Linked DNA regions of Homo sapiens. The protein of the gene in region 5 purifies or fractionates together with the protein of the main gene of each other region. This does not show direct contact. Each region holds a gene or a part of one and is shown on either strand. Other genes may lie near its edges. The genes, in order: TSPAN15, CELA3A, SLC7A8, C1QTNF9 and DCBLD2.

What was found.
Region 1: the proteins of DCBLD2 (region 5) and TSPAN15 purify together in Homo sapiens (co-immunoprecipitation; one large-scale study listed by IntAct). This does not show direct contact.
Region 2: the proteins of DCBLD2 (region 5) and CELA3A purify together in Homo sapiens (co-immunoprecipitation; one large-scale study listed by IntAct). This does not show direct contact.
Region 3: the proteins of DCBLD2 (region 5) and SLC7A8 fractionate together in Homo sapiens (co-fractionation; one large-scale study listed by BioGRID). This does not show direct contact.
Region 4: the proteins of DCBLD2 (region 5) and C1QTNF9 purify together in Homo sapiens (co-immunoprecipitation; one large-scale study listed by IntAct). This does not show direct contact.

Annotation. Positions count from the first base shown.
Region 1 is NC_000010.11:69,505,178-69,508,421, reverse strand, and holds the end of TSPAN15 (tetraspanin-15), read right to left. Parts: intron 2,299-3,244; coding exon 2,182-2,298; intron 1,594-2,181; coding exon 1,444-1,593; 3' UTR 756-1,443; downstream 1-755. UniProt on the Homo sapiens protein: Part of TspanC8 subgroup, composed of 6 members that interact with the transmembrane metalloprotease ADAM10.
Region 2 is NC_000001.11:22,007,704-22,012,096, forward strand, and holds part of CELA3A (chymotrypsin-like elastase family member 3A preproprotein), read left to right. Parts: intron 1-2,001; coding exon 2,002-2,154; intron 2,155-4,393. UniProt on the Homo sapiens protein: Efficient protease with alanine specificity but only little elastolytic activity.
Region 3 is NC_000014.9:23,141,951-23,146,343, forward strand, and holds part of SLC7A8 (large neutral amino acids transporter small subunit 2), read right to left. Parts: intron 1,255-4,393; coding exon 1,129-1,254; intron 1-1,128. UniProt on the Homo sapiens protein: Associates with SLC3A2 to form a functional heterodimeric complex that translocates small and large neutral amino acids with broad specificity and a stoichiometry of 1:1.
Region 4 is NC_000013.11:24,312,206-24,316,598, reverse strand, and holds part of C1QTNF9 (complement C1q and tumor necrosis factor-related protein 9A precursor), read right to left. Parts: intron 1,706-4,393; exon of another isoform or gene 1,622-1,705; intron 618-1,621; 5' UTR 596-617; coding exon 430-595; intron 1-429. UniProt on the Homo sapiens protein: Probable adipokine. Activates AMPK, AKT, and p44/42 MAPK signaling pathways.
Region 5 is NC_000003.12:98,814,260-98,818,652, reverse strand, and holds part of DCBLD2 (discoidin, CUB and LCCL domain-containing protein 2 precursor), read left to right. Parts: intron 1-759; coding exon 760-884; intron 885-4,393.

The DNA.
Region 1 (3,244 bases), on a different chromosome or scaffold from region 5:
TTGCCCAGGCTGGAGTACAGTGGTGTGATCTCGGCTCACCACAACCTCCGCCTCCCGGGTTCAAGCGATTCTCCTGCCTCAGCCTCCTGAGTAGCTGGAACTACAGGCGCGCACCACCATGCCCGGCTAATTTTTGTATTTTTAGTAGAGATGGGGTTTCACTATGTTGGTCAGGCTGGTCTCGAACACCTGACCTCGTGATGGCCCACCTCAGCCTCCCAAAGTGTTGGGGTTACAGGCGTGAGCCACCATGCCCGGCCTCTTGCTACTTTATTTCTATTGCCCTGGCTACTAAGAGCCTCACAAAAAATCTAGATCCCATGTCTTCTGGCCCGAAGGTTTGAGTGGACTGACGCACGCAAGTCCCGGCATCTCCAGCAGGGGTCGACCGACACCACGCTCTGCATGCGTTGCGCGGCAGCCATTAGGCACACTGAGGGCTGCAGGGAGCGCGGTAGGTGGACCTGTGGGCAACTCCGCTTCCCTGGTCCCCCACCCCATCCACCCCATTTCCTGGAGGTGGAGCCTCATGCTGTACCTGGCCCAGGCTGTTTCCCTCGGTTCTCGGTAAAATAGGCGTGGTCACCTCTGGCCCTGAGGCTTTCCCCCCAACCCCCCACCTGTATCCCAAGCTATGCCAAATCTTCACCCCATGCACCCCCTTCATCCTCGCATCCACAAGGGGTTTCCAAATCCAGGTTGCAGCCTTCCTTACCCCCGCCCCAACAAAACAGCACACAGGAAAGGCAAAAAAAAAAAAAAAAAAAAAACATGTTTTTATTGTTTGATTAACAAACTGGTTGGGGGAAGGGCAAGAATAAGACATGCGGGGAAATACCAGCTTTGATTAGTCAGAAACTCCTGTTATCTGTACAAAAAAATGAATGTTACAAAAATCACGTAAAAAAACTAGGCTCAAGGAAGCAGCCGCCCTTGCAAGAGGGCTCAAGGCACCTGGGAGGCTGAGAAGAGGCCAACCTGGCCATGGGCGTGGCTGCATGGACAGCTCTTCCCTCCTGCCCTTCCCCAGATGCCCTTCCCTCCTGCCCCGAGGGGCACACTCCCTCTCCCCAATTACAGGTGCTACAAAACTGCCTTGAATACCACCGCCAAGGCACTGCCAGAGATGAAATGGGCCCTGAGCAGAGCCTCAGGCTCTCCCTCCCCCGTAGCCCAGGCCTGGAGAAAGGAGGGCCTTGTTCCCCAGGCCCCAGGTGGGCACAGATTCCAGAGCTGCCTCGGGGAAAGCCTCTTAGGGGAGGCCCAGGCTCTGCTCCCTGGGGAGGCAGAGGCCGTGGGACCTACACACAGGCACACACAGCCCTGGCTTTGGTCAGTACTGAGTGTGGGCAGAGGGGCCGCAGCCCTGTCCAGCCCCACGATGTTGACTGAGAGGTGCTATCCCAGACGGTCCTTGTTGGAGCTGCCATGGCAGGCTGGGCCCTAATTGGGGTAGCACAAGCAGCATCCCGTGCCTGCCGCCTCCACGCTGGGCTTGGCACCGGGCCCCAGGAGCCCATCAGTGACAGAGTGCTCCATGATGATGTCCTCCACCCGGGTGATGTACAGCAGCGTCAGCAGCACCCCCAGGAACTGAGAAGAAGGGGCAGGGCTGGTGAGGGCCTGCTGGGAATCAGGGCAGCCCTCCCTGCAGCTCCCGGCTCCCAGAAACCCAAGCAGCCAGTCCCAAGCCCTCATGGTCCTGTGTGACCTGGGCAACACCCACAGCAGAGACTTCTCCCAGCACCCACACTGCCCAAGAAGCTCCCACCTGGGCCCCCTCTCCCCTTCCCAGGAAATCCCAGAGCGCCTCGCTGTGCCCCATCAGCAAGGGCCCCTCCCTTCTGGGATTCCTGCCTCCACCCCAGCTCTGCTGCACACTATCTAGGGGATCTTGGCAAGTCACTGAAGCTTGCTGCTCCTCAGTTTCCTCCTCTGTGAAATAGGCATTATAATAGTGCCTCCCTCACAAAAAGAAGTGAAGCAGCAGTGCCTGCGCAGCACTTGGAAGAGCTTCGCCACGACTGCTATTGCCATTTGCCCCTCCTTCCAGCCATGCAGCCCTCCCCAGGCAAGTCCTGGACTTCTATGAAAAAAGCCTCTTCGCTCTTCCCCTCTGCACCTTCTCTGCCCTTCTGCAATCACCAAGTCACACTTTCTCTGAACCCACGGCCTGCCCACCTGGGGAAGCAGGATGCCCAGGAGGATGCCCGCCATGATGGTGTAGTTGTCCATGAACCAGATGATCACGGCGTTGGTGCAGCCCCGCACGTAGATGACATCCTGCACACTGAAACGCTGCATGGGAAGGAGCTGGGTCAGCCCAGCAGAGGACCTCGGCTGGCAGGAGCCACAGCCCCGACTCTGCCATGTACACAAGGTCCAGGCTAGTCCCTCAACCGCTGTGATCCTCAGTTTCCCATATGCAGCATGAGAAGGTGACCCTAGATTCTGATTCTTAATGGACAGTACTGTTCTCTAGAGAGGACTGGGGACACCGTGGTGGCACTTTTGGTTGCCCCAGCAAACGAGGTTGGCGGCTGAGGGACTGCAGAGCTCAGGGTAATCCTACTCCACAAACAACTGCCCTGCCTGTGTGCTTCTCAGATGTCCCTGCATGAAAAGCCTCACGGATGTTTTCCATACATGAAAAGCCTATTTATAATTATCCAAGCCAATAGCCCCACTCCAGGTACATATAAAAAACAAAGCAGAGTTGGGCATGGTGGCCAGTGCCTGCAGTCCCAGCTACTATGGAGGCTCAGTTGGGAGGAGTGCCTAAGCCTAGGAGTTTGAGGCCAGCCTAGGCAACAGTGAGACCCTGTCTGTCTCTTAAGGGAAAAAAAAAAAAAAAGCATTTCTGCATTGGTTTTAATATACAAAGAATTTTCCAGAAGTACTACTAGGTAAATTAAGGAATGATTACACATTATTTAATTCAGAACTTTATCAAGAATTGTTCACCGTTTTTAAAAACCATGCCAGTGGCAAAAATGATGCCCATGGTATGTGAGTCGCCAACACAATGCCCAGTATCAGCTGCCCTGTAGCTACTACAGCCTCAGGGATGCCTCACATCAGTGCAGACACCTGACTACATTGTGTCTTCTGCACCCCCCACTGCCTAAGCACTTACATGATGAACTATGTTAAACAGCTGTAAATTGCTGTATTTCATTTCTACTTTATCTCAGATCATTATGTTAATTGTATTGGAATTGGGCATGTAGGTAGGTTATCTGTG
Region 2 (4,393 bases), on a different chromosome or scaffold from region 5:
TGCAGTCTCAGCTCACACACTGACATGACTTGGGACAAGTCACTGTGTCTCCCTGGTCCTCAGGCTTCCGCATCAGCACAGCAGGAGATACTGGTCCCATGACCTCTAACGCAGGTCAATTCTGTGGTTCTAAAGTTATAATTAACCATTAAGAATACCATCATTGTTCTGGGCACAGTCCCTCCTGCCTATAATCCAAGTGCTTTGGGAGGCTGAGGTGGGAGGATTGCTTGAGGCTAGGAGTTTGAGACCAGCCTAGGTAATATAGTGAGATGCCCATCTACAGAAAAACTTTTTTTACTTAGTCAGGCATGGTGGCACTCGCCTGTAGTCCCAACTACTTGATAGGCTGAGGTGGGAGGATTGTTTGAGCCTGGGAGTTCAAGCTCACAGTGGCTATGATTTTTGCCACTGCACCCAAGCCTGGCGACACAGCAAGACGTTGTCTCTTTTTTTTTTTTTTTTGAGACAGGATCTTGCTCTGTTGCCCAGGCTGGAGTGCAGTAATGCCATCATAGCCCACTGTAGCCTTGCCCTCCTGGGCTCAAGCAACCCTCCAATGTCAGCCTCCCAAGCAGCCAGGAGTACAAGTGTGTGCCACAATGCCTAGCTAATTTTTAAATTTTTTGTAGAGATGAGGTCTCACCATGTTGCCCAGGCTGGTCTCTAACTCTTGGGCTCAAGTAATCCTCCTGCCTTGGCCTTCCAAAGTGTTATGTTTACAGATGTGAGCCACTTTCCTGGCCAAGACCTTGTCTAAGAAAAAAAAACAAAGGCTGGGCGCGGTGGCTCACGCCTGTAATCCCAGCACTTTGGGAGGCCGAGCCGGGCGGATCACGAGGTCAGGAGATCGAGATCATCCTGGCTAACATGGTGAAACCTCGTCTCTACTAAACACACAAAAAGTTAGCCGGGTGTGGTGGTGGGCGCCTGTAGTCCCAGCTACTCGGGAGGCTGAGGCAGGAGAATGGTGTGAACCCAGGAGTTGGAGCTTGCCGTGAGCCGAGATCGCGCCACTGCACTCCAACCTGGGTGACAGAGCGAGACGCTGACTCAGAAAAAAAAAAAATACTATCAAATACCCTCATTGTATTGTAATTGAGTATGAATTAATAATTAACTATGGTGCCACTAATAAGAACTATGTTTATCGAGTGCTTCTTCTCTACTGGATATCGTGCTAAGATCGTGCATCATCTCATGTAATTCCCTAGGCTCTTGGACAGATACTACTATTCCCTATCACAAATGAGTCAGCTGGCTGGGCGTGGTGGCTCACACCTATAATCCCTTTGGGAGGCCCCGGCAGGTGGATCACCTGAGGTCAGGACTTTGAGACTAACCTGGCCAACATGGTGAAATCCCATCTCTATTAAATATGGCTGGGTGCAGTGACTCACGCCTGTAATCCCAGCACTTCGGGAGGCTGAGGCGGGCGGATCACGTGGTCAGGAGATCGAGACCATCCTGGCTAACACGGTGAAACCCCGTCTCTACGAAAAATACAAAAATTAGCCGGGCGTGGTAGTGGGCACCTATAGTCCCAGCTACTTGGGAGGCTGAGGCAGGAGAATGGCGTGAACCCTGGAGGCAGAGCTTGCAGTGAGCTGAGATCCTGCCACTGTACTCCAGCCTGGGCGTCAGAGTGAGACTTCGTCTCTAATAAAAAATAAATAAATAAATAAACAAAAATTAGCCGGGTGTGGTGGCAGGTGCCTGTAATCCCAGCTACTTGGGAGGCTGAAGCAGGAGAATCACTTGAACCTGGGAGCCGGGAGACGGAGGTTGCAATGAGCCAAGCTTGCGCCACTGCACTCCAGCCTGGACAGCAGAGCGAGACTCCATCTAAAAAAATAAAAATAATAAATGATAAAAAAATGAGCGAGCTAAGGCTCAGAGGTGTCAAGTAATGTCAGAGTTTCTTGAAATCCCTAGAATTCAGAACCAGTTCCGTAAACCTCAGACATGGCTCAGCCACCCACTCCTCTCTGACGGTTCCAGGGTGACTCTGGAGGACCCCTCAACTGCCCCACAGAGGATGGTGGCTGGCAGGTCCACGGTGTGACCAGCTTTGTTTCTGCCTTTGGCTGCAACTTCATCTGGAAGCCCACGGTGTTCACTCGAGTCTCCGCCTTCATCGACTGGATTGAGGAGGTGAGGAGGGCAGGGCGGCCCGGAGGGCTTTAGGGTGGTGGCTCTTCTGAGAGGTGACAGGTGAGAAACATCGGATCCTGGGGAGGGCCTGAAAGGATCCTAGAAGCTCAGTGGGGAAGGGCCCTTGGGGACATTCCAGAAAGGCTTGGGGATGTTTTCTGATACAGTGTGACCCCAGGAACTTGATGGCTTCTGGGTGGTGCTTGGAACTACAGCTGAACTTCCTTATTTCAACAAGTATTTATAAAGTATCTCCTCTGGTCTTGTCCTCTCTTGTCAGGGAGGATAGAGAGACATGCCAGACAAGAGGCTGCCTGGTGGGGGACAGGTGATTACATGAATGAGAACGATGCAGTCTGATGAGAGCCGAGAGAGGGGAGTCCAGGCCCCAGACTTCATCTGGGGATGGGTGATCAGAGAGGACTAATAACGCTCATGGTAACAGTAATAGCTAAACAACAAAAAAAAAGAGAGTAATAGCTGGGCATGGCATAGTCATGCCTGTAATCCCAGCACTTTGGGAAGCAGAGGCAGGTGGATCACGAGGTTAGGAGTTCAAGACCAGCCTGGCCAAGATGGTGAAACCCTGTCTCTACTAAAAATACAAAAATTAGCCGGGCATGGTGGTGGGTGCCTGTAATCCCAGCTGCTTGGGAGGCTCAGGCAGAGAATTGCTTGAACCTGGGAGGTGGAGGTTGCAGTTAGTCGAGATCATACCACTGCACTGCAGCCTGGGTGACAGAGCGAGACTCCGTCTCAAAAAAAAAAAAAAAAAAAAAAGAGTAATAGCTAGCTGGGTGCAGTGATGCCCACCTGTAGTCCCAGCTACTTGGGAGGCTGAGGCAGGAGGATCGGTTGAGCCCTGGAGTTCTGGGCCATAGTGCGCTATACCCATCAGGTTCTGCACCAAGTTTGGCATCAATGTGGTGACCTCCTGGGAGTGGGGACCACCAGGTGGCCTAAGGAGGGGTGAACTGTCCCAGGTCAGAAACAGAGCAGGTCAAAACTCACATGCTGAAAAGTAGTAGGATCACACCTGTGAATAGCCACTGTACTCCAGCCTGGGCAACACAGCAAGAGCCTCTCTCTTAAAAAAATGAAAATAAACTAAATAAAATAAAACAGTAGTGCTTGCTTTGGCAGCACATGTACTAAAATTGGAATGATATAGAGATTAGCACGGCCCCTGCGCAAGGATGACATGCAAAGTCATGAAGCCTTCCAATAAAAAAACATTTCTGGTCGAGTGCAGTGGTTCATGCCTGTAATCCCAGCACTCTGGGAGGCCAAGGCCCATGGATCACCTGAGGTCAGGAGTTCAAGACCAGCCTGGCCGACATGGTGAAACCCCATCTCTACTAAGAATACAAAAAATTAGCCGGGCGTATTGGTGCATGCCTGTGGTCCCAGCTACTCAGGAGGCTGAGGCAGGAGAACTGCTTGAATCTGGGAGGCGGAGGTTGCAGTGAGCCGAGATTACGCCACTGCACTCCAGCCTGGGTGACAGAGCAAGACTCCATCTCAAAAACAAAAACAAACAAACAAACAAAAAAACAGTGATGATTTATAGACCATTTAATCCCTTGGTTCCCTGACCCATGTTAAAAAAATATATATATAAGGCCAGGCACGGTGGCTCATGCCTGTAATCCAAGCACTTTGGTAGGCCAAGGCAGGTGGATCACAAGGTCAGGAGTTCGAGACCAGCCTGGCCAATATGGTGAAACCCTGTCTCTACAAAAATATAAAAAAATTGGCCAGGCGTGGTAGTGCGTCGCTGTAATCTCAGCTACTTGGGAGGTTGAGGCAGAAGAATTGCTCGAACTCAGGAGGCAGAGGTTGCAGTAAGCTGAGATTGTGCCACTGCCCTCCAGCCTCGGTGACAGAGCAAGACTCTGTCTTAAAAAAAAAAAAAGGCCGGGCGTGGTGGCTCACACCCGTAATCCCACCACTTTGGGAGGCCGAGGTGGGCAGATCACGAGGTCAGGAGATTGAGACCATCCTGGCTAACACGGTGAAATCCCATCTGTACTAAAAATACAAAAATTAGCCAGGCATGGTGGCGTACGCCTGTAGTCCCAGCTACTTGGGAGGCTGAGGAAGGAGAATGGCATGAACCCAAGAAGTGGAGGTTGCAGTGAGTTGAGATCGTGCACTCCAGCCTGGGCAACAGAGTGAGACTCTGTCTCAAAAAAAACCAAAAAAACAAAAAAAATATAGATTTTGTTTATATATATAC
Region 3 (4,393 bases), on a different chromosome or scaffold from region 5:
GAAATAAGGAGATTAGTGTGACCAGGAGAAAGAATTGAGGCCAGCTTAGGAGGGACTCACTATTTTTGACAAGATAGCGCAGTGATTTCCTTAAGTCTAAATGCCTGAAAGCAATATATAACCTGTTAAAGAACTTAATCCAACTGTTTAAAATAATCAGGCATATTATATAGCAGAAACTTAATTATGTTTCCTGGAGTAGAAGTCCGGGCTGCCCACACTGCCTTCAGGGCTTGTGGGAAATTTCCCTGTTTGTCACCTGACTTTCTCCGTGAGGCAGTGACGCTGGGCAGAGCCTCATGGTGCCATGGGTCCCATGGAAACCAAATATAGCCTCAGGCTTGGAAAGGGCCAAATCCAGTGGGGAATGTTGGCAGGGGCCCCGGGAATGCAGAGCTCTCTCTCTCAGAGATTATAAGTAATTTTGAAACATAAAATACCTTTCTCTGTCCTCCACTTTAAGATGTGGACAAGATTCAACAGAAGATGCAGGGAGCTTCCCTGGGGTTGGGGCAAAAAGACAATAGGAATCTAGAGATCTGGGGTTTTTGTTTGTTTATTTGTTTTTGAGACAAGGTCTTGCTCAGTCGCCCAGGCTGGAGTGCAGTGGCACAATCATAGCTCACTACAGCCTCAAACTCCTGGGCTCAGGTGATCCTCCCACCTTAGCCTCCAGAGTAAGTGAGACCACAGCCATGCACCACCATGCCCCATTAATTTTTAAATTTTTTTGTAGAGATGGGATCTCGCTGTGCTGTTCAGGCTAGTCTCAAACTCCTGGGCTCAAGTGATCCTCCTGCCTCATCCTTCCTAAGTGCTGGGATTACAGGTGTGAGCCACCACACTCGGCCGATATGTGGGGTCTTTACCTAGCTGTGCTACAGCCTTGAGGTAAGCATGGGAGAGGTGACCTTTGCAGCCTAAAGGGAGCATTCCCTACTCCCAGCCACCTCGGGGAAAATGGTTTCTCCTTCCCTTTTGTCAAGCAAGGGAAGAAGAAGAGAAGTCACTCAAGGCTAGAATTGGGGAAATCTCAGGGTGTGGCATACTTCCAAAGCTGGGCTGAGAGGGTGTGTACATGCAAGGGGAGGAAAGCTGGGCAGTACCTGTTTTTCCTGCGATACTCACCTTTGCATATCTGTACAATCCCCATGATGATAATCAGGGCCAAGGCCAGGAGCTTCCCAGCTGTGAAGATGTCTTGAACCCGGGTGGCCCACCGCACACTGGAACAGTTGACCCATGTGAGGAGCACTGAAATGAAAGACCCCCAAACAGACCTTCAGGGGCTGTATCTGGCTGCATGATGCCCAAGGCACACAAGCAGAACTGCTCCCTCATCCTGACGATGACATTGTAGTAGGTGAGCCAGACATCCAGCAAGCTCAACCCCAGGGACCAGAGACTTTGGCTAGGTTAATGGGTTGCAAATGGGGATTATATGTCCCAAATTAGAGCTTGGGCCCAGCATGCCCTGCTGAGGGCTGGAAGCCAGAAGTAGGCATGGAAGTGTAGGCACTGGCTTTGGGGGTAAAATCACATCTGATCAGGGCACAAGTATGGGCTTTGTCTTCAAGTTATTATTTGTGCAAGAGAAGCTGTGAGCAGCTGGTGGGAGTCAGGAAGCCACCTTCCTGAGCCTGATTTTGGGGTAACAGAGGCTTAGGGGAATCTTATGTTACTTAGGTTTATTGAGATATAATCTACATCTTACTAAAACTCACCTTTTTAAAGTGTACAGTTTGATGAGATTTGACAAATGCATTTAATGGCTTAATCACTTCAGCACTTCATATATAGAACATTCCCAACACTCTAAAAAGTTTCCTTTTGCATCATGCTCCTTTGTAGTCAGTTAGGCAAATCTTCTTCCCCTACCTCTACAACCATTACTTTGACTTCTGTCCCTATAGCTTTGTCTTTTTCAAAATGTCACATAAATGGAATCATATAATATGTGGTCTTCTGTGTTTGGCTTCTTTCACTTCACAGAATGCTTTCGAGATCTACTCATGTTGTTGCATATATTACAATTTGTTCCTTTCTATTGCCAAATAGCATTCTATGATATAAAGGTATCTGTTTGTTTTTCCATAGACATTTGGGTTGCTCACAGTGTGGGACTATTATGAATAGAGTTGTGATAAATACTTGTGTAGATGTCTTTTTTCTTTTTGTGGATTGTAGAGATCTTTGAGTGGGGTTTTCATTGCTCTTGAGTAAATCCCCAGGAATGAGATCCTGGGCCATAGAGTAAATGTGTTTAACTTTCTAAGAAACTGCCAAACTGTCTTCCACAGTGGCTGTCTCATTTTGCATTCCTACTCTCATGTCAGAGTTCCTGTTGCTCTGTATCTTTCCCAGCATTTGGTATTGTCAGTTTAAACACAATTTTTTTTTTTTTTTTTTTTTTGGCTAATAGGCATGTAGTTGTATTTCATTATGGTTTTGATTTGCATTTCCCTAATGGCTAATGATGTTGAGCAACTCTTCATGTGCTTATTTACCATCCATTTACAAATCTTCTTTGGTGGCATGGGGAGTTGTAATTCTCTACAAAAAATTTTAAAAATAAGCTGGGTGGTGTGGTCGCTCTGACTTCACTTGAATGGCTGATCAAGTTTTATCAGTACCGTATTCTTATATGGTACTTCTACTTTCCAAGTATTTCCCAACCTTATTTGATGCTGAGAACATTTGGTTAGGGTAGGATGGTCCTGACATTAACCGTCTGTAACCTTCCTTTGTGCGCCATCTCCACCTGGCAAACCCCTTCTCCTCTTTCAAGATCCAGCTTAAATGTCACCTGTTCTGTGAATCTCTATAATTCAGCATGTTATTTATTCCTAACAACATGCCTGCAAGGGAAGATATATCAGCTGTGTTTTGTAGACGAGGAACAAAGTTTGTTCCTTCTCTCTAGAACAATCCCAGACCACTTTGTTTATATCTAATGTTGGGATGTATTTCTTTTTTCTTTTTCTTTTTTTTTTTTTTTCTGAGACGGAGTCTCACTCTGTCGCTCAGGCTGGAGTGCAGTGGCGCGATCTCGGCTCACTGCAAGCTCTGCCTCCTGGGTTCACGCCATTCTCCTGCCTCAGCTGGGACTACAGGCGCCCGCCACCACACCCAGCTAATTTTTTGTATTTTTAGTAAAGACAGGGTTTCACCGTGTTAGCCAGAATGGTCTCGATCTCCTGATCTCATGATCCTCAGCCTCCCAAAGTGCTGGGATTACAGGCAGGAGCCACCGCCCGGCCGGGATGCATTTCTTTGTATTAAAATGACCTGCTTCTGGCCGGGCATGGTGGCTCACGCTTGTAATCCCAGCACTTTGGGAGGTCAAGGTGGGCAGATCATGAGGTCAGGAGTTCGAGACCAGTCTGGCTAACACAGTGAAACCCGTCTCTACCAAAAATACAAAAATTAGCTGGGCGTGGTGGTGGCGCGCCTGTAATCCCAGCTACTCAGGAGGCTGAGGCAGGAAAATCACTTGTACCCGGGAGGCGGAGGTTGCAGTGAGCCGAGATTGTGCCAGTGTTCTCCAGCGTGGGTGACAGAGCTAGACCACATCTCAAAAAAAAAAGAAAAAAAAATTTTTTTTTTTTTAAGACACCAAGGGCAAGTAAATGTTTTCATGTTTTTAAATCTCAGGACTTATCATTGGCGCCTGCAAATAGTAGATGCTCAGCAAGTATTTAATAAATGAATTTTAAAATATCACAATTCATTAGCCTTCCAATATCATCTCAGTCTACACATTCCACAGCGCACATCAACCTCTTCTGCTCCCCAGGAACCCCATCAAAAGGAGACACAATCCCTAGTTGGCTTCATGTTGCCAAAGGGCAACAGGGAACTTGACTTCAAGAGCAGAAGCTCCTGACTCCTCATGGAAGAGCTATTATCCAAGATGATGTCATGCAAGGAGAAGCAAAACATGTTGTCAGAGGAAGGATTTTAAGTGCCCGAGCAGGGAGAACACTTTGTAAATACTCAAATGTTCCAGACGGACTGACATCCTGATAAATACACATTTGGTTTGTCTTACTCAATTCAATAAGGATTTCAGGATCATGTGCCTGGTGACAAGCCAACCTAAGTCACTCTAAACAACTGGGTCTGTGATCTCAGCTTCTTCCCTAGGCCCCAAGGCATGCAAGGTACAAGGCTGCGCCCCTTCACCCAGGAATTCAGGCAGACACAGCAGTAACTCAAGGATAAAGGAGATTGATAAAAGGAAGGAAGGAAGATTAGGAAACAAACCCCATAAGCCTCAGGGATAGGTAAGGATTACACAACAAGGAACTGGATCTTGATCTCAGGGAAGAAAATCCTTCTCCAAGGGGAGGAGAGGGGAGGGCGAGGAAATGACAGAAAGTGCTTGAGGAAA
Region 4 (4,393 bases), on a different chromosome or scaffold from region 5:
CTGCACTGCAGCTGGGTGCTTGCTGCCAAATAATTCGTGATCAGATCTCTCTATTAGCCTTTTGTTGCCAAAAATCCATCATACCTGTCACCTGAGATGGGAGGATCCATGACATCGTATACTACTGAAAATGTTCTGCGGTGTCAGAGATGAGAGAACCCAGGAGGGCAGGGGTCATGGCGATCTTGCCCTGTGCTCTCCACCAGCACCTGGCACAGAGTCTGGCATGGAGCAGACCCCGTGAGTGTTGCTGGGCAGATGGGTGGATGGATGAATGGGGTCAGGCTCCAGTGAGTGTTGCTGGGTTGATGTATGTATGGATGGATGGGGTGTGAGTGGGTAGGTGGAAAATCACACAGATGATGAGTGAATGAGATGAAAGGAATGAAGAGAGAAGTTGAAAGGCAGCCGAAGCCGTCAGGTGAGTACCTGCATCGCCTTTGTCACCCTTCGCTCCGTCTCGTCCATCTCTTCCAGGCAGACCATTGTGACCGGGGTTCCCAGGGATTCCAGGGTGCCCTTGCCTGCAGGTGTCCTGTGAGTTTATGTTCCCTGTGCAGATTTCAATGGCAAGCAGAAGCCACCAGATCCTCATGGTTCAGATGACAGACTCTGAACTGAAAGAGGGAAACAGAAACCCAAAGGAGAAATCTTTGTTGCTGGGGCCCTGGACACAGCCTCTGTTCCGTGCAGTGGGAAATGGATGAGCTGTCCCCTGCCCCAGACCCACACCTGCACAAACTTGGACAGAAGGCTCAGGGCAGGGGAGCAAGCTGATTATAACCAGAATGACACTGTCCTTGGAAGGTAACACTTGTGATTGGAACCACTCTTCAAGGTGAACGGGCAATTTAAAAAGCCAAGTTTAAGGTCAGGATACTCTTCCGTTCATCATTTCACTTTGAAGAAATCACTTTTCTGAACCAGAGATCAATGCTTACTTATCTCACAGGACTGTCGTACAGATCAAATTTTATCACGATATGCATAAAGGCACATTCCAAGTAGTGAAGCAAACATAGCATTACCATCTGATCCAGCAATTCCACTGCTGTGCATCTACACAAAATAATTGAAAGCAAGGACTGGAACAGATGTCCATGTTCGTAGTTGCATTATTTTCCATAGCAACCCAAGGGTCCCTCAGTGGATAAATAGATACATGCAATGTGGTAGGTCCATACAATGGAATATTCTTCAGCCTTAGAAAGAGAAGAAATTCTGACACATGTTACAACATGAATGGACCTCGAGAACATTATGCGAAGTGAAACCAGCTAGTCACAAAAAGACAGACCTGGATAATTTCACCTATAAGAGGTTCCTAGAGCCGTCAAACTCATATAAAGAAAAAGTAGGATGGAGGTTGCCAGAGGTGAAGAGAGAAGGAAATGGGAGTTGTTTGATGGGTACAGAGTTTCTGTTTGGGAAGATTTTAAAAGAGTTCTGGAGATGGGTGGTGGTGATGGTTGCACAACAAAGAGAACGTACATAATGCCACTGAATTGTGCCCTTAAGATGGTTAAGCTGGTTAGTTTTACGTTTTATGTTATATATTTTTTACCACATTAAACAATTAAATTAAATTTTTAAAAAAGTAAAGCATTCCAAGAAGTCTTACTGTAGTGAGAGGTGTTCTTTGAGTCAGGGTCTTGTTTTTCTAGGAGGCCACTGTGAAGAAGGGCCACACACACGGAAACATCACCTAGTTCGGGAGAAATGCATTTTCAAGTCCTTTCCTTATATATAATTTTTGGAGACAAGGTCTTGCTCCATCACGCAGGCTGAAGTACAGTCATGCAATCACAGCTCACTGTAGTCTCAACCTCCCAGCTCAAGCGATTCTCTTGCTTCAACCTCCCAAGTAGCTGGGACTACAGGCATGCACCACCACACCTGGGTTTGGTTTTGTTTTGTTTTGTTTTCGAGATGCAGTTTCGCCCTTGTGGCCCAAGCTGGAGTGCAATGGCCGATCTCTGCTCACTGCTGCCTCTGCCTCCCAGGTTCAAGCAATTCGGCTTCTCAAGTAGCTGGGACTACAGGCGCCACCACCACGCCTAGCTAATTTTTGTATTTTTAGTAGAGACGGGGTTTCACCATGCTGGCCAGGCTGGTCTCAAACTCTTGACCTCAGGTGATCTGCCTGTCTTGGCCTCCCAAAGTGCTGGGATTACAGGCATGAGCCATTGCCTATTTTTCTTTCTTTCTTTTTTTTTTTTTCTTTGGAGAGACTGGGTCTCACTCTGTTGCCCAGGCTGGTCTTGAAATCCTGAGCTCAAGTAATCCTCCCGCCAGTCTCCCAAAGTGCTAGTATTACAGGCTAAAGACCCTGTACCTGACTTTTAGGATTTAAAAAAATGAAGTAAAACAAAAACGTGGGCATAGTGCAACTGGTCAGAACCCAGATCCTCTCACAGTGCTGATAGCCATGTAAATCTGCACATCTTTCTGGAAAAGTTAAAGAGCAAAAGACATCTATGTCTTTCACCCTGTATTGCTATCCCTAAAATTCTTCCTAATGTTCCAAAACTGTGTGCCAATTGTGTGCCATTACCTGCAGCATTATCTATAACAGGTGAAAACGTGCATACTACATACTATGTAACAATAGGGGAAAGGTTTACTATGTGTAATAGTATGTAACTGCTGCAATAATTATGAAGGTCATGTAGAAATATGTAAATGATATACATTGTGCTGAATTTTGATAGTAGACTAAAATGCCATGCACATTATAAATGTACTTACGACTGTATGAATATTGACAAAAACTCAAAGTGAATATATGCAAATAAAGATGGTTGCTTTAGAATGGGGGGCAGTTATGGGAGCTTTTCATTTATAAAAAATGCTTTTTTATAGTGCCTACACAAATATTTCTAGAGATTTTGAAAACCAGCAAGACTCTCTGTCATCCAAAGACTGTATTGCCATCTGGTGGAAATGTCACAGGGAGCAGTCTAATGCAAATGGAGTATTTTTGGGAAAGGAAATGCAGATGCTTCCCTTCGAAGTCACAAATTCGCTCCATTCCAGGAAATTGAGTTGAGTTTTCTTGGAGCCAAATTCCATGAAGAATATACACGAGCCTCCTTTGCTAAACTCAGAAGTGGCCGGAAGCAGTCAAATCGAAATTCCATCAACCAAACTTTGTTGAGGGTTCTATAATTTTCATTTTAACTTTTCAAAATGTGGAGTACAACTATTCCAGGAATAAAATGATCAGAAGATCATAAAGGTGTCAGGTTAGGATAAACTCCAATTTGCTCTCCAGGGAAGAAGAAGCCAGCCTGGAAGCAAATGGTTACTCTTCTGTAATTATTTCACTAGTTTTGCATATTTGATGTAGGTAGAGTCTATCTAGCTTGTTTATACAGCATGTAGACAACCTTCAGCAAATGATTTTGATTAACTAATATGCGTTCTCCCAAATACGTAGCAAAGTAAGTTGTGCCACTATTTCTGTTTTATTTGTTTGTTTGTTTGTTTGTTTATAGAGATACAGTCTCATGAATGTTGCCCAGGCTGGACTCGAACTTCTAGGCTTAAGTGGTCCTCCTGCCTCAGCCTTCTGAATAGCTGGGATTAGAGACGTGGTCACCACCTAGGTTGGCACTATTTTTTTTTTCTTTTTTTTTTTTTTTGAGATAGAGTCTCGCTCTGTCGCCCAGGCTGGAGTGCAGTGGCGCGATCTTGGCTCACTGCAAGCTCTGCCTCCCGGGTTCGCACCATTCTCCTGCCTCAGCCTCCCGAGTAGCTGGGACTACAGGCACCCACTACCATGCCCGGGTAATTTTTTGTATTTTAGTAGAGACGGGGTTTCACCATGTTAGCCAGGATGGTCTCGATTTCCTGACCTTGTGATTCGCCCACCTCGGCCTCCCAAAGTGCTGGGATTACAGGTGTGAGTCACTGCACACGGCCGCTTGGCACTATTTTTTAATAAGAAATTTTAGCAAGTTTATACCTCCTATTTAGCCTCTTCTTTAATGTAGAAGGTTGAGGATTTGCACAAGGAATATAGAAGAAATTATATTAATGTTATTTTGAAAAATAAAAAATTACATTTGTGCCTCTCACAAAGCTATGGGTTGGACCCTCAGTTTCATTAGTTCAACTACAGTTACACTCTTGACTTTTAATTTCTGGGTCTGGTCTTTTCCCAGAAGGCACTAGAGCTAGGAGCCTCTTCTGTCTCCCATCTTTCCCTGCAATCATCCACTCTCTCTCTCATCTGAATTACTGTCCTCCCCAGTCCCCACTTACTCTGTACACCACACCTAGACTAATGATCACTTAGTAGGCACCAACCTGGGTTAGAGCTTTATGAAGATGGTGACTGCATTTTTCTACTTCCTTATTTTCAGTCAAGTATTTGTTGAATGAATCAATG
Region 5 (4,393 bases):
TTAAATGGTGCCGACCCAGATTGAGGGTGGGTCTGCGTGTCCTAGTCCACTGACTCAAATGTTAATCTCCTCTAGCAACACCCTCACAGACACACCTGGGAACAATACTTTTCATCCTTCAATCAAGTTGACACTCAGTATTAACCATCACAGTATTTAATTCGTAATAGCTTTTTGTTTCCATTGTAATGAGACTCTTTTTTTAAGGTAGTGTTTCAGTAAAGTGGTCTTGAGACATCTAAAATAACGGTCTCCTACAGTCATTAAGAGAAATTTATGTTAAAGGAGTCCATTTTAAATGATGAGATCATTAATTTTCCACATGTGGAGAGTATAAATTTAATTTAGGGGAACTTAGCAAATGGTCGGAATAATTGGTTGGGATTGGTTTAATTTTGTTAAAATATTTATTTTGTTTTGGTACTGTAAATAATACCAATAATCATCTTTAATCTGTTCATTCCCAGGAAGTCATCTTACCCAGTAGTCAAAATCTATTTTACGACGTTATAAACACAAGACACCAAAACAGAATAGTTCTTTACTTAATTAATGCCCACCCATAATCCTTCCTCTCTCTCCAAGGGAATAAGGCCAAGGATTTAGTAATTGTTATGACAAAAACGTGCACTTGGATATGGAAATGAGCCATAATTAGAAATGTTCGAGCTGTGCATTTCAAGTGTTTATACTTTGATGCTGAACAAACTTAGGGAATCAGACCATGTGCATTAATGAAAGCAACTCTTCATTCCCCAGGCATTATAACCACTGGATCCACCATGGTGGAGCACAATTACTATGTGTCTGCCTACAGAATCCTGTACAGTGATGATGGGCAGAAATGGACTGTGTACAGAGAGCCTGGTGTGGAGCAAGATAAGGTAAAATGATTACCAAGGTATTTTTAAAAAACATTTTTTAAATGGGTGGTTGCCAAGTCACAGAGCTCTCCTGTATAAAAGAGATGTAGAAGTTTAGAATGTCTTATACTACCCTCTTGTGGTTATTTTAGGTAGTGTTATTGGCCTTACTCTACTGACTTTAGAAAATTCTCAGTAGTTCTAGGTTCCTTTTGGTGATTGTAACGGTGAGTACTTTTCTGATTTTTGTCATTGCATTTTTAATTGAATTGTTTAGACACTTTATTAAGAAAGTCTAAAAGGGACCTTGTAATTTCTTATTTTTATGAAGCTTTTTTCAATTCACCAGATGATGGAGAGCCTTTGTTCCCAGATTTCTACTCTGTAGGCAAGAGGTAAAAAAAGAAAAAAGCTGAAAACCAACGTGCATTAAATTATAGGATATTAGAGATGAAAATTCATCTGAAGATCATCTCACCAACTTTCATCTTGGGAAACTTCTGTTTTTTCTTACATGAAGAATTGCTCTAGCATCTAATTATGGAATCTTTGTTTTAGTTAGCAACAATTTATGAAGATGCTGGAATGAGCCAGAGGAAATGATAAGGGGTGGGGAGCAGGCAGAGATGGGTCTTATTCAGATGTGTATCCCTTTGATCTTTAAATGGAGAAGTCCTTGTGCCTAAGGAAGATAGATGTCTCCCATCAGTACCAAAACTATGGGGCTGGGCATGATGGCTCACTCCTGTAATCACAGCACTTTGGGATTGCTTGAGCTCAGGAGTTTGAAACCAGCCTGGGCAACATGGCAACACGCCATCTCCACTAAAAATACAGAAAATTAGCCAGGCATGGTGGCGCATGCCTGTAGTCCCAGTTTCTTGGGAGGCTGAGGTGGGAGAATCACCTGAACCCAGGAGGTTGAGGCTGCAGTGAGCTGTGATCACTCCACTGCAATCCAGCCTGGGCGACAGAGGGAGACTCTGTCTCAAAGTGGAAAAAAAAGAACTGAAACAATGATGACATTTTTTCAAACTTTCCTATGAGTTTGATTTTGATTATATATTTTTGTTTTTTATCATGTATGATTTGCTAAAAAGTCTTCAATTACTACTTTTCTCATCTCTTTGTTCAAAAACCTCCAGGGGCTCATTATCTTTCATATGCATCTTAACTCCTCTGCTTTTATTCAAGGCCTCTTTCTTCTCTTCTACTTGGCGTCACATGAACTTCATCTTTGGTGAGCCTCTCCCTGTTAAAGAAAATAACAATACTGTCTCCATACATATCTTCTACCTCATGCCCCTAAACTTGACTACTCTTTACTCCTGCCACATCCATATTCATTTGTATCACATTTATTTTGCTTGTGGAATATAGCTAAATTTTTGGAATGTTAAGAATTGTTCAGGCTTATACTATAAAAACTTCTAAACATTAAATGATATTTCTGAAAAAGATTCTATGTTGCATTCATTTTTGAAAGGTAATTTCTCTAAGTGTAGAAATCTGGGTTGATCAGTGGTTTTTTGGTTTTTTTTTTTTTTTGGTTTTTCCTTTCAATAATTGAAATACGTTGTCTGCTGTTTGCTGGCTTGCATTGTTTTTGACAAGAATTCTGCTATTATTTCTGTTCCTCAATATGTGATATGTCTTTTTTTCTGTGGCTCCTTTTAAGGTTTTCTTTTTATCATTTGTTTTAAGCAGTTTGATTGATGTGGCTTTTTTATATTTTTCTTCTTTTTTTTTTGCGTGGGGTTCTTTGAGGTTTTTGGATCTGTAGGTTATGATTTGCATCAAATTTAGAAAATTGTAGTTCTTTTTTTTTCAAATATTTCCCTTCCCCAATTCTAATTTTATGAATATTATGACCCTTGAAGGTATCTTACCATTCACCAATGCTCCGTTCTTTATTTTTTTCAGTCTTTTTCTCTTTGTATTTTAGTTTGAAAGTTTTCTGTTTTGTCTTCAAGTTCACTAATCTATTCTTCTGAAATGTCTAATCTGTTAATCCCATCCAATGTATTTTTATCTCTGATACTGTATTTTTTATCTCTAGATGTTCAGTTTGGGAGTTTTAAGATGTCTCCAGTGTGTCTTTACATGCTCATGCTTTTCTCTATCTCTGGAACATGGAGCATATATAATAGCTCTTTTAATATCCTCATCTGCTAATGTTATCCTATGTCATATATGGGTCTTTTTATGTTGATTGATATTATGGATCATATTTTACCTGCCCGAATTTTTTTTATTGGATGCCAGACATTGTGTTACATTGTTTGGTGCTGGGGTTTTTTGTTATTAATATTCCCTTAAGTATTTTTGAGCTTTATTCTGGAATGTAGTTAAGCTACTGGAAACAATGTGATATTTTCAAGGCTTGCTTTTAAACTTCATTAGGCAGGACCTGGACAGCCTTCAGTTTTCTTATTTTTCTCCCCCACTGAGACAATACTGTTCTAAGTACTCACTGCAGCATCCCATGTATTATGAGGTTTCTCTGTTCTACCTCTTGGCAGTGTAAGGAATTCCCAGATCTACGGAGCTGTGAGACTTGTCCTGCTGACTCATTCCAGTGTTTCTTTTACTGGCCATAGGTCATTTCTTTACATGCAGCTGAAGATTTAAGGGATAACTCCTTATATATTCTAGAAGTGTCTCTCTCTCTCTCTCTCACTCACTCTATCTTTATAGCTCTCTTCTCTCCTAATCTCTGCCTACAAATTCTAGCTACCTTATTGGCCTCCCACTCTCAGCTCTGTCTCTGCAACTCAGTGAGACCGGCAGGCTCTGTTAGGGATCTCTCTCCCTGCACTGTGGCCTGGAAACTCTTCTATAGACAGTACTGGGGCAATAAATAGCAGGGTTCACCTTATTTGTTTCCCTTCTTTCCGTCATTATTGCCCAAGGCAGCCTGTTATCCAGTTTCTCAGGTACGTATAGGGCTGAACAATAAGTCTAATCCGTTACTCTTATGGTCAGAAATGCAAATCTTCACATTGAATTGTATGAATTAACAGTCTTTTCCCGCTCATGTAAGTCCATCTGCTCCCTCATCACCTCCAACCCAAGGGTAATTGGTGTATTCATTTTACCCCTTTTCTGAGCCTGCACATGTGCATGAGTACGCAGAGACTGCATTTGGTTTTGTTTTTAGAAAATGGGATTTATATATATATATACAATTTGTTTTCATAATATATCACTTTCTAACATTATGCCATATTTATGTGTGGTAATCAATAAAATTTAAGTTTCTTGAGGGTGGGAACTGTAGCAACCATATCCATTTTCTCTTCATGACACCTCACATACTTCTCTGTACATGAGGATTCTCAGTAAATGCTCATAGGTTGACTATAGCAAATCTTTTTTACTCAGTTTTTATAAAATTGAGACAGCAATATAGAGGAATATCTTAAAGATAGTTTTTATGTGTTAAAGTAATGATTTGTTATCGTCCCTGTTCCACTAATATAGTAAGAATGAAAATAATTGCCTTTCATTTTATTTCAGAGTAATATCTG